Regions from separate parts of the Homo sapiens genome. Here all the other regions are reported to be linked to region 3. The links are microRNA targets in miRTarBase. Many come from high-throughput screens and were not tested one by one. Region 3 holds a microRNA gene; each other region holds the end of a gene's coding sequence.

Region 1 (4,000 bases), not on the chromosome of region 3:
AGGCTGTCCTTTTCAGGCTCTGCAGGTGAGGCACTTGGCTTTCTGGACCCCGAGATCCTCATCTGTAAAGTGGCAAAAACGATAGAGCCTTTATCCTACATTGTGCCCTGAGGGCTGGCTGGCTTAGTGAGTATCAAGTGCTTAGCACAGTGTCTGGAAGACAGACAGTGCCCAGGAATGGGTGCCTGCAGGCAGTAAAATTATTCTCCCTTTCACTCTTTAAGAGGTGATCCTTTCTGAAGGAGTCCTCTATCTTCTCTCACACTACAGTAGTTGATCTTACCTAAGGATGGGAAAGGGTAAAGGAAAAGGGAAAAAAGCAGAACAGGTAGAGGAGAATATAGGAAGAATCTTGGCCCCCGCCCATCGTCACTCAACACCTTGAGGGCCTGCTGTGAGCTAGAATTCAGGGCTGGGAGTCAGGCTGTGGGATGCTCGACAGGTTGCCTTCAATTCCTCCTCTCTCTCCCCCTTGCTCTCCTAGTCCCCCAGTTCCCTGCCAACCTCATACGTTCTTTTTGGTCTTGCAGAATGTGGGGCAAGCCTGGGAGGTCATGAGCACCCAGACCTGAGTGATGGCAGCCAGCATTTAAACTCCTCTTGCTATCCATCTACGTGTATTACAGACATTCTGCTCAGCTACAAGCACCCCGAAGTCTCCTTCAGCATGGAGCAGGCAGGCGTGTAACAAGAAACAGAGAGTGAGTGTCACCCTGGCCAGAGCCAAACCAGCCCTGTGGCCCAGTGCCTGCTCCCAATCCCATCAGGAGCTTCAGCCCATGTGTTGTGGTGGCCAGTGCAGTCGACAGTACCACGCCTCCCCTCGTGGCCTTCACAGTTTCTTGCTTTTCATTAACGACGCTGCTAGTTTTAGGGCGCGAGGTAGGGGTGGGGGTGTGCAGAAGAAATGCTAAACACAGTCTCTTGGTTCGGTTATGGGAATAAGACACAAGACTCGCCGTGTGTTACAGGTGCTCTAGCCTTCATAGCGACAGAAGTGAGCTACGGCTCCAGAGGATGCAGGTGACCTCCGGTCAGCATAATGAGGAAAGGAGGAAGTCCTTAAACTCAGTCCTAAAAGACAAAACCTGGCAGGAAAATATGTCCAGCCATATTTTTTAAGGCCATACAGAAGCAAGTGGCAGGATATTCCAGATTAGGGAAATGTGTGATGAGAGGCCCATGGTAGAAAGAATGGGGAAATTGGCTTGTTTGGCTGGAGTAATGCAAAGAGTACACAGCAGGCACCATTGGTTGTATCTGGAAAATCCTTGACAGAAGAGGCCTGATGAAAGGGAAGCCACTTGGCAAATCCACATCAGAGCCTCAGTATGGCAAGCTACCTGAACACCTGAGGGAAAGTAAACCCGTTGCATTTTTTAAAAGGTTTTAAATGGAATATTTGAGCCTTTCTCTTTTCAAACTAATTCTCCTCTGTGTCTGCTTTATTCCAGGTTTTGTGTACAGCTTGGGAATGAAAAGGTTGATTGTAAACCCACAGTATCTAGCAGCGTTGTGCCAAATTGCCCTTGTGTTTCTCTCCACCCAAAATATCACAGCTGCTTTCCTCACATTTGGTTCATCCGTGTGCTGTTCTTTTGGGTTCTGAGAGGGTTTTGCCATGTTTGCTTGTATGACCAAGTCACCAAGGAAATAAACAGGAAGGAAATCCATGTTCTCCATCTTTTGTGAAAGTATATTTGAGTTGGTGGTTTTTTGTTTTGTTTGGGGGTTTGTGTTTTGTTTTGTTTTTGGTATGTTTTCTTCCAGAGGTGATATACTTTCTTTTTTTTCTTCCTTTCTTTTTTTTCTTTCGTTCCTTTTTTGAAACAGGAGAGCAAAGCAGTTAGAGTTCAGAGGCCAGCGGCCTCAGGGCCACTCCCTCCCTAGCCTTCATCAGCAGAGCACCCTCCATCCCCCTGCATTGCTCTTCTGTGAAAGCAAATACTAAAGGATGCCATCCTCTGGAATCCTAATGGCAGGCAAAGGGAGAGAGGAAGGGTGACGGCTTCTGGCACTTAGAAAACAAAAAGAACAAAAAAAGAGAAACCCCCAAGCCTGGAACGCAGAGAGGTCTTTACTGCTGGGATCCACGGAAAACATGTCTGTCCTAGCCAAGATCATATGAAGAGTTTGGCACGGAGGCTGAGAATGACCTGGCATAGATGGTTTGCCAGTTAGGATGTCTCAATTTGAGCCTTTGCTTTTGGTGGATAACTCAGCTCCCCTCTTGTAACCTGGAAAGTTGGTTGCCTTTATCATCCTGCTGGTTTTATCCATGGACTGAACACCCAACAGCAGTGCACTATGCTTTCTATGGCATCTTTCATTCTCATTTTATATTGTGCTATAAAAAGGATTGTTTCTCCATATATATATTATATATGTGTGTATATATATAATATAATATATGTGTATATATATATTATATATATAATATATAATATAATATATTATATATATATTATATATATAATATATATATAAAATATATATATATATGCTCTCCTCTTTCAGCCTCTTTGTCACAGGGAAGAAGTGTAGGAGGTTGCCTTGGGCCCTGCCTCTCTCCTAACCTCCTCTTCCCCACTGGGTACCCTCAGCCCCTATATTTTAATTCTTGATCATGTAGAAATTGTTTTTGGTAAATGTTGATATTATTGTTATTATCATTATTAATAAATAAAGAGAAAAGGAATTTTTGTTTAAATGAGAAATGTTTAACCAGATTCTGTTCTATTTGAATTGTGACTTGCACCTTTTGTTCAAAGTATTTCCTTTAGGCATTGTAATTGTGAACAGCTCTTACTTGTGCCAGTGACAGATGCAGTGGTCTCCTTTCCCCAGTTGAAGCAGTGCATACGCAGTAGCTATTATTTGTGTTATCTTTATTTCTCTTCATTGTTAGAAACCAAAGTCTTCTCTGCTGGCTGGGGCTGAGAGAGGGTCTGGGTTATCTCCTTCTGATCTTCAAAACAAGAGAGAGACCTTGAATACACTGACTCTTCCACCCTTTTTTTTTCTGGGAAAGGAGAGCAAGAGGTCCCGAGTCCCCTCCTAGTCTTTCATCCTGAATTTGCACAGAGGAAAGCGGGTGCCCGGCATGGCCATCCTGATGTTGCTGGCGGGATCCCCATGCACCTTGTCCTTCTCCACTGATACTGGCAGCTCGGCTCCTGGACCCAAGATCCCTTGAGTGGAATTCTGCAGTGCAAGAGCCCTTCGTGGGAGCTGTCCCATGTTTCCATGGTCCCCAGTCTCCCCTCCACTTGGTGGGGTCACCAACTACTCACCAGAAGGGGGCTTACCAAGAAAGCCCTAAAAAGCTGTTGACTTATCTGCGCTTGTTCCAACTCTTATGCCCCCAACCTGCCCTACCACCACCACGCGCTCAGCCTGATGTGTTTACATGGTACTGTATGTATGGGAGAGCAGACTGCACCCTCCAGCAACAACAGATGAAAGCCAGTGAGCCTACTAACCGTGCCATCTTGCAAACTACACTTTAAAAAAAACTCATTGCTTTGTATTGTAGTAACCAATATGTGCAGTATACGTTGAATGTATATGAACATACTTTCCTATTTCTGTTCTTTGAAAATGTCAGAAATATTTTTTTCTTTCTCATTTTATGTTGAACTAAAAAGGATTAAAAAAAAAATCTCCAGACTCAAGTTGCTAAGACCTTTTGTCCTGCCTTTTGTCCTTCCTTTTGTGAGGCACTTACTTACAACTTGGTTACTTAGTTGGACAGCAGGAAGTTGTGTAGATAGGAGCCTGATTGTGTTCTTAGGCTGATAGATTATTTGCCTGTGGTTTGGAGTCTAGTTGGAAGAAGCCTCAGGTAGGTGGGAGCTGGAGCAGTGGAGGCTGGAGAGGTCTCCCAGGCTAAGGGTGGGGCTTTGAGTGACTTAAGAAACTCGCATTCTCTAGAAGCCTGAACTCTGCTTCACACTGTGTCCCTGGGCACCCAGCTCGGACTCTGCCCTGTCAGAAGGGA
Region 2 (4,000 bases), not on the chromosome of region 3:
AAGACAGAGGAAACACATCTGACCCAGATTGGTAGGCTTTCCCAGAAAAGTTTATGCCCAAGTATAGTGTTAACAAATAAGAACTTCTCAGGTGAGATAGGGGAGAAGAGTCTGCGAGGAAAACCTGTCTAGCATGGCAAATACGAAGTCCAGAGATGAGAGAAGATGGTCCACGTGGTTTAAAAGTCTACAACAAGGTAAAGGAGGTACACAGTAATTAAAGTAGGAAAGATATGTCAACACCTAAGAATCAGAACTAGTATCTTGAAAAGTTAGGAGCCCTGGGGTTTTGTTTTTGCTTTTGCTTTTAAAGGATGTGTTTGTTCCCTGTATCACCGTGCCCAGCTTACTCCTTTTCTTCGGAAACACTTGGTGCCGTATTGTTACTGGTTGAATCTCTGTGTTTGGTTTTTAATTTGTTATCTTTGCCCCCATGCTTAGGTTTGATGACAAATACACCTTGAAGCTGACCTTCATCAGTGGGAGAACAAAGCAGCAGCGGGAAGCCGAGTTCACAAAGTCCATTGCTAAGTTTTTTGACCACAGTGGGACACTGGTCATGGATGCATATGAGCCTGAAATATCCAGGCTCCATGACAGTCTTGCCATAGAAAGAAAAATAAAGTAGCCAATTCTAAAAGTAGCCCTCTTTCTCCTGGATCTTGCTGAATTAGTGGCTTGGGGGGTGGGGGAGATAAAAAGAACTTAAAATGGGTAAAGTAAGAAATGTTAAAAAGTCCCTGTTTTGTCCTGAAATTTTAGTCTATTCTGGGTAAATAGGATTTTCTGACACAGATATGAGAAGTTGTAGCTCTGATGTCTAGCTGTAGTCTCCTTGATCTGCTGATTGCATTATTTTAATTTGCTTTTCTGGGAAAGCAGTTTTGCTAAAAGCTGTACAGACTTTTTCTTTTGTACCTAGCAGTACTTTATATAGTATAGCTTTGGGCCATGTAGCATTTTAAGACTCAATTTTAAAAAATTATTAATCTGTTGCTGACTCTTAATTCCTATTTCAATATGTGTTTCCTTGAAGAATTCAGGATACAACTTCTTGTGTATGACAGCTTTCCTTCACACACTATTTTTGTGGGTGTGTATATATCTGATTTGGGAAGAATTTAAAAAACACATAGCTTTTTAATTTGTTTGAAACAGACTTTCTGCCTGTTACATTTTTGCTTTTAACCAATTAAAGAAGCCAATGGCATTTTAGTTTTATATTGTGTTTTCCACTAGTATATCCCTGTTGATTTGTTTGTGCCTTTTATTAACTGCCATTTTCTAAAATTTTTTTCAATAAAAGGAAGGAAGATGTGAAAAAAATGGAGTCATAGTTTTGATGGAGAGAACAGAGAAACAAGTGTTAACATCTTTCTACTATAGGTTTTTTTCATTTTTAGGCTATTTTACTTGTCAAAGGCCCCTGAGAACCTGTAGCTAAGGAACTCTTAGCTTTCCAGTGATAATAACAATAATAACAACATTCTGTACTTACTTTGTGCCAGAAATGCTCCAAGTACTTTACATGTGTTAATAATGCTCACAGCAATCCTAAGAGGCAGGTGCTGTTATTATCCCCATTTTACACATGAGGAAACTGAGATACAAAAGTTAAATAATTGTCACACAGCTAGTGATAGAACTGGGATTCAAACCTGGGGAGTCCGGCTTCAGAGTTTGTGGTCCTGCAGAGACAAAACAGCCGCTTTTCCAGTATTTTCCCAGTATGGTCAGAGAAGACCTGGGTGCTTGCCAAGATCCTTTGACCTTTAGGAATATTTCCCTACAGCCTTACAAAACATCAATTTTGGCTGAGCCTAGTACCCAACACTATATTCAGTTTGTAAGAAATTACCATTATCACATTTCCTGTTTGTCTTGGAGAGGTTGTCCTATCTCGCACCACATGGTAGGGAATTGTGAACAACACTGGACAGAAAGTTAAAGCCTTGGATTCTGTACTCTTCATTCCTGTAAACCTTGGGTAAGTTTCGGAATTCTCTGTGAGCTTCTTAAAGTTTTTGAAAGCATGTAACCGGATAAGTGTATTTTTACAATGGAGGAGTTACAGTCATCTTGGTATTTGTGGGAGATTGGTTCCAGGATCCCCAAGCATACCAAAATCCAAGGATGCTCAAGTCCCTTATATAAAATGGTATAGCATTTGCATATAACCTACACACATCCTCCCATATACTTTTAATCACCTCTGGATTACCTATAATACCTAATATAATGTAAATGCTATGTAAATAGTTATACTGCATTGGTTTTTTAATTTATATTTTTTGTTATTTTTTAAAATATATTTTTAATCCATGGTTGGTTAAATCTGTAGATATAGAGGGCCAACTGTACTGTTAGACACAAGGGTCTCGAGGCTTGCAGATAGAGACTGAATAACCCTCTCCATGATGATCCCTTAGAGTTCCCCCACTGTGCCTTTTTCTTTACATGTGCATGCAAACATGTGTCTCCACATACATTTTTTTTAACAAAAATTGAATTATGTTGATATATGTCCTGTAATTTGTGTTTTAAACTTAATATATCTTAGGCATTTTCCCTGTGTGTGTGTATAATGCAGCTATTAAAAATGAGTCTGAGGCCAGGCATGGTGGCTCACGCCTTTAATCCTAGCACTTTGGGAGACCAAGACAGGTAAATCACCTGAGGTCAGGAGTTCGAGACCACCTTGGCCAACATGGTGAAACCACATCTCTACTAAAAATACAAAAAATTGGCTGGGCATGGTGGCAGATGCCTGTAATCCCAGCTACTTGGGAGGCTGAGGCAGGAGAATGGCTTGAACTGGGAGGCGGAGGTTGCAGTGAGCCGAGATCACACCCTGCACTCCAGCCTGGGCAACAAGAGCAAAACTCCGTCTCAAAAAAGAAAAAAAAAAGAGTCTGACATACATATATATAAAAGAAACTGTTCTAAAATACCAGAAGTGCAAAGGCAGGGGACCAATTGCAACAAGTAGCTGGGGTGATAACCCCTATATATATATACACATAGGTCAGTCTCATTTTTAATAGCTACATAATATTCCATAGTATAAGTGATTTTACTTTAATACCCTATTGATGATAATTTTTCCCCAGTTTTTTTCACTATTCCAGGAAGGAGTATGGATTGAGGAGAGGGGAAGAAAATAGGTCCTCAAATGAGAGACAAGAAACCTGGGTTGTTAGCAACTTTTTTCTAATTTGTGACCTTGAATACATCCTATTCCTTTTCTAGGGTGAAGTCTCTTGTTAAAAAAAAAAAGTTTTAGAGAATGTATTTTGAGATTATGAAGACTCCTTATTCCCTGGGAAATAAAAAACATCCCTTATGATTACAAAGAATGTTGGGTGCCATATCCCCAATATCTGCCTATAAGGCTCACTGGAGACTTCTTGGACTACATGGATCTATTTTAAGGTTTTTCCCTGACTCCAGAAACCAGTTGAAGCAGTTTAGATTTGTTGAAGAAGTGGGTTATCAGCCCAGCTACATGTTGCAGTTGGTCCCCTGTCTTTGCACTTGTGGCATTTTAGGAGTGTCTCATCACATGAACAAAAAGTACCCTCTGCAGGCTCAAGCCTCAGCATGGGCACACTTTGTAGAGCTGCAGAGTGCCTCTGGCCAGCTTCTGACACATGCATCTACTGAGTGGCCATTTCAGCCCAGTCCAGAAGGCTGCTGGGCTGCTCTGTACCCTCTAGTAGGTCTGCAACACCCTTGCCACCAGGAAACCCTGACACCCATCACATCATCATGAGTGAAGTTCTCAGTTCCTCACACTTACCTCAGACGGACTTTTTTCTAGAAAATAGAGGGCCACTGAGGACAGTGGAAAAAGATCCTAATGTTTTTTCATTATTTGCAAATTTCAACTGCTAATATGTATTTAATGTTTGTCATGCTTTTATATACGTGTAGAAACAATCTTTGCTTCAGAACAATTTCGGGGAATGGAAGAAGATGCAAAGTCCCTTTGCATACACAC
Region 3 (4,153 bases):
ATATCTTGACTAACACGGTGAAACCCCATCTCTACTAAAAATCCAAAAAATTAGCCGGGCGCGGTGGCGGGCGCCTGTAATCCCAGCTACTCAGGAGGCTGAGGCAGGAGAACGGCGAGAACCCGGGGGGCGGAGCTTGCAGTGAGCCGAGATAGCGCCACTGCAGTCCGGCCTGGGCGAAAGAGCGAGTACTCCGTCTCAAAAAATAATAATAATAATAATATCATCCATAATATTAGTTGATAGTCTCTTCATAATTCTAAATCCAGCATTTTTCAAAGCATTACCAATGAAGGAGAACTTTTAAGATGAAGCTAAATATAAAAAAAAAGTGAATTACTGCAAATTACTATACATAGTATAATTTGAAATTTTGGTAATATTGTCTAAGACAAATCATCCTTTTGGGATAGTTTTTTTCCATACTGTTCAAACTACCCTTCATCCTATAACGGCAGACATGGCCTAATGATTCTCATTTTTAATCAACAGTGTTGTCAGACATTTCAATGATTCTGAACATAATGTTATGACATTCAGGGCCAGAGAGCAAGCATTCTCTACTTGCTCTCAGCTGAAAGCAAAGAGGTTCTCAAGAGCTGCCAGCCTTTCTCCTTTATGCTCTGAAAGCCTCCTAAACTTGTCAGTTTACTTCCATTACCCTTTTATTGAAAACAATGAAAGAAAAAAAGTTACTACGGTGTTTATACTTTTAAAGTGAATGTCTTTTGTAATAAGGTAGAAATATCACAGAACCATCGAATGTTGGAATCAGAAGCATGTTTGGCATATCATCAAGTACAATAGCCACATCCTGCCTATGTGGAAAGCTGGAGGGGCTAAAGGACCTCTCAAAGCTACACATGTAGAGTCAGCAGCAGAGCAGAGCTTAAAGCAGCAAGTGACTCTTACGGCCATCAGTAATCACACTCTTGCTTAACATGCAAATGAATAAAGCTATTTTTATAAAATCCCTCCCCCCCCCATATATTGGCAGTAACTCTAAATTCTAGTCATTTTTTAACCATTACAGAATAAGATTAGAAGCATCAGTAGTTAATGGTGATAATAATTTCCATTTTATATGGGGTTTTATGGTTCACAAATATATTTTATAAAATAAGTTTCTAACATTTCATTTTCTTATATTGAGGGCTTTTAAAAGAAATAACCAAAACCTATTTTATTAAAATTTGATATTTAAAATTATAGTTGAGAATAGTGGAAGATTTTTCCCATTATCTTTGCTCTCCTGGATAGCAACCAGATAAATGACTTCCCAGAGAAATGCATAGAGTCATATAAGATAAAACGTCTTTTTTTCTCCATTTTACTCAGAGTTTGATGATGAACTATGACTGGATATTGAAATAATCATTCTTTTATCCTTTGTAGTAAGGCTTACTTTGTCCAGTGGCAACATGATCAGACAAGCAGCTCTCAGATGACATGTGACAATATTAAATTCAATCTTAGCAAGCAGCTTCTCAATTTCACACTTGTGGTAGCTGGATTAACCCAATTATTTTTTGGAGGTTAAGGGAAACTTTCACATTTGCAGAATACCATCCTTCAGAAACCGGAATGTAGGATTTTGTTATCTCAAAGAATTTTATGGAGATGGAAAGATCAGTTAGTATTAAATTTTAGCACACAATCAGATGAAGGGTTTAGGAAGAAGTAGATATGATTACCTAATAATTCACTTTGAGTTCTTCACTTTGAGCCTCAAAAATGTGTGAAACTTGGGACTTTTACTAAGCATATCTTTCAGGCAAAATATTTTCATTGTACCAGTTCCAAGCTCTTGGTTCTAACACAAAACCCCTGCTACACATACACACACATGCACTCACACACACACAGGCTACCTATATATACACCTGCTATGTGTGTGGATATGTATTTACACATACACATATCAGGTGTATACATACGTAGCATGTATATATACACATACACACACACGCACACAGGCACACACATACTTGTTACCTATATATGTATACATGCACATATCAGGTGTATGTAAATGTAACATGTATATGTACACACACGCACACAGGCACACACATACTTGTTACCTATATATGTATACATGCACATATCAGGTGTATGTAAATGTAACATGTATATGTACACACACGCACACAGGCACACACATACTTGTTACATATATAATTACACATGCACATATCAGGTGTATGTAAATGTAACATTTATATATACACACGCGCACACAGGCACACACATACTTGCTACATATATATACAGTCAGGTGCTGCATGATGACATTTTGCTCAAGAACAAATCACATACATGAGGGTGGTTCCATAGATTATAGTGGAGCTGAAAAACTCTAGTGGCATTGTTCTCATTGTGACATTAGTGCAATTACTTAATTTTTAAAACAAATTTAGTGTAACCTAAGTGTACAGTGTTTATAAAGCCTACAGTAATGCATAGTAACGTCTTAGGCCTTCACATTTGCTCACTGCTCATTCACAGATCCACCCAGAGCAACTTCTACTCCCACAAGTTCCATGAAAAGTGCCCTATACAGGGGTGGCAATTTTTTTTAATCTTTTATATCATATTTCGCTGTACCTTTTCTGTGTTTAGATATGTTTAGATATACAAATACCACTGCATTGTAATTGCCTACAGTGTTCAGTACAATAACATGCTATGCAGGTTTGTAGCTTAGAAGTAATAAGCTATACGACATAACCTAGTTGTTTAGGAGGCTACACAATGTGTTTGTGTTATGTGCACTCTATGATGTTCTCTCAACAATGAAGTCACCTAATGATGCATTTCTCAGAAAGCATCTCCATTATTAAATGGCACATGAACGTATTTGCTACATATATACATACTGGCTATAAACACACACACACACACACACACACTCACACACACCTGCTACAGTCCTTTCAAAGTATAAAAAAAGATACCAAAATGTGTTAGAGATTCGTTTGTAAAATGTAACTATTTTCGGACCAGATGGATTCACAGCCGAATTCTACCAGAGGTACAAGGAGGAACTGGTACCATTCCTTCTGAAACTATTCCAATCAATAGAAAAAGAGGGAAACCTCCCTAACTCATTTTATGAGGCCAGCATCATCCTGATACCAAAGCCAGGCAGAGACACAACCAAAAAAGAGAATTTTAGACCAATATCCTTGATGAACATTGATGCAAAAATCCTCAATAAAATACTGGCAACCCGAATCCAGCAGCACATCAAAAAGCTTATCCACCATGATCAAGTGGGCTTCATCCCTGGGATGCAAGGCTGGTTCAATATACGCAAATCAATAAATGTAATCCAGCGTATAAACAGAACCAAAGACAAAAACCACATGATTATCTCAATAGATGCAGAAAAGGCCTTTGACAAAATTCAACAACGCTTCATGCTAAAAACTCTCAATAAATTAGGTATTGATGGGATGTATCTCAAAATAATAAGAGCTATCTATGACAAACCCACAGCCAATATCATAATGAATGGGCAAAAACTGGAAGCATTCCCTTTGAAAACTGGCACAAGACAGGGATGCCCTCTCTCACCTCTCCTATTCAACATAGTGTTGGAAGTTCTGGCCAGGGCAATCAGGCAGGAGAAGGAAATAAAGGGTATTCAGTTAGGAAAAGAGGAAGTCAAACTGTCCCTGTTTGCAGACAACATGATTGTACATCTAGAAAACCCCATTGTCTCAGCCCAAAATCTCCTTAAGCTGATAAGCAACTTCAGCAAAGTTTCAGGATACAAAATCCATGTACAAAAATCACAAGCATTCTTATACACCAATAACAGACAGAGAGCCAAATCATGAGTGAACTCCCATTCACAATTGCTTCAAAGAGAATAAAATACTTAGGAATCCAACTTACAAGGGACGTGGAGGACCTCTTCAAGGAGAACTACAAACCACTGCTCAAGGAAATAAAAGAGGACACAAACAAATGGAAGAACATTCCATGCTCATGGGTAGGAAGAATCAGTATCGTGAAAATGGCCGTATTGCCCCAGGTAATTTATAGATTCAATGCCATCCCCATCAAGCTACCAATGACTTTCTTCACAGAATCGGAAACAACTCTTTAAAGTTCATATGGAAGCAAAAAAGAGCCCGCATCGCCA

Evidence for each region. Region 3 holds the annotated microRNA hsa-miR-4789-5p (GUAUACACCUGAUAUGUGUAUG, at 1,912-1,933, opposite strand). A microRNA usually pairs through its seed, bases 2 to 8, with sites in the 3' UTR of a target mRNA and lowers its output. Matches are read on the target gene's strand: a 7mer-m8 pairs with bases 2 to 8, a 7mer-A1 pairs with bases 2 to 7 and ends in A, and an 8mer does both.
Region 1: miRTarBase lists SIK3 as a target of hsa-miR-4789-5p. Seed matches in the 3' UTR shown: 7mer-m8 at 2,389-2,395 and 7mer-m8 at 2,413-2,419.
Region 2: the mRNA of SPCS2 is a reported target of hsa-miR-4789-5p. Seed matches in the 3' UTR shown: 7mer-m8 at 1,096-1,102 and 8mer at 2,578-2,585.

The regions. Positions count from the first base shown.
Region 1 is chr11:116,843,084-116,847,083 of GRCh38, reverse strand. SIK3 (SIK family kinase 3) reads left to right here. Exons shown (of 25, transcript NM_001366686.3): 24 at 531-701; 25 at 1,455-3,682. The coding sequence ends at 688. It also overlaps APOA1-AS. Among named protein-coding and RNA genes, the nearest start is that of APOA1, 7.5 kb to the right of the region's middle.
Region 2 is chr11:74,976,416-74,980,415 of GRCh38, forward strand. It overlaps SPCS2 (signal peptidase complex subunit 2), which reads left to right. Exons shown (of 5, transcript NM_014752.3): 5 at 442-2,618. The coding sequence ends at 628. Among named protein-coding and RNA genes, the nearest start is that of NEU3, 11 kb to the right of the region's middle.
Region 3 is chr3:175,367,332-175,371,484 of GRCh38, reverse strand. MIR4789 (microRNA 4789) reads right to left here and starts at 1,945; the gene lies at 1,864-1,945. All of the region lies in intron 5 of NAALADL2 (N-acetylated alpha-linked acidic dipeptidase like 2), which reads right to left.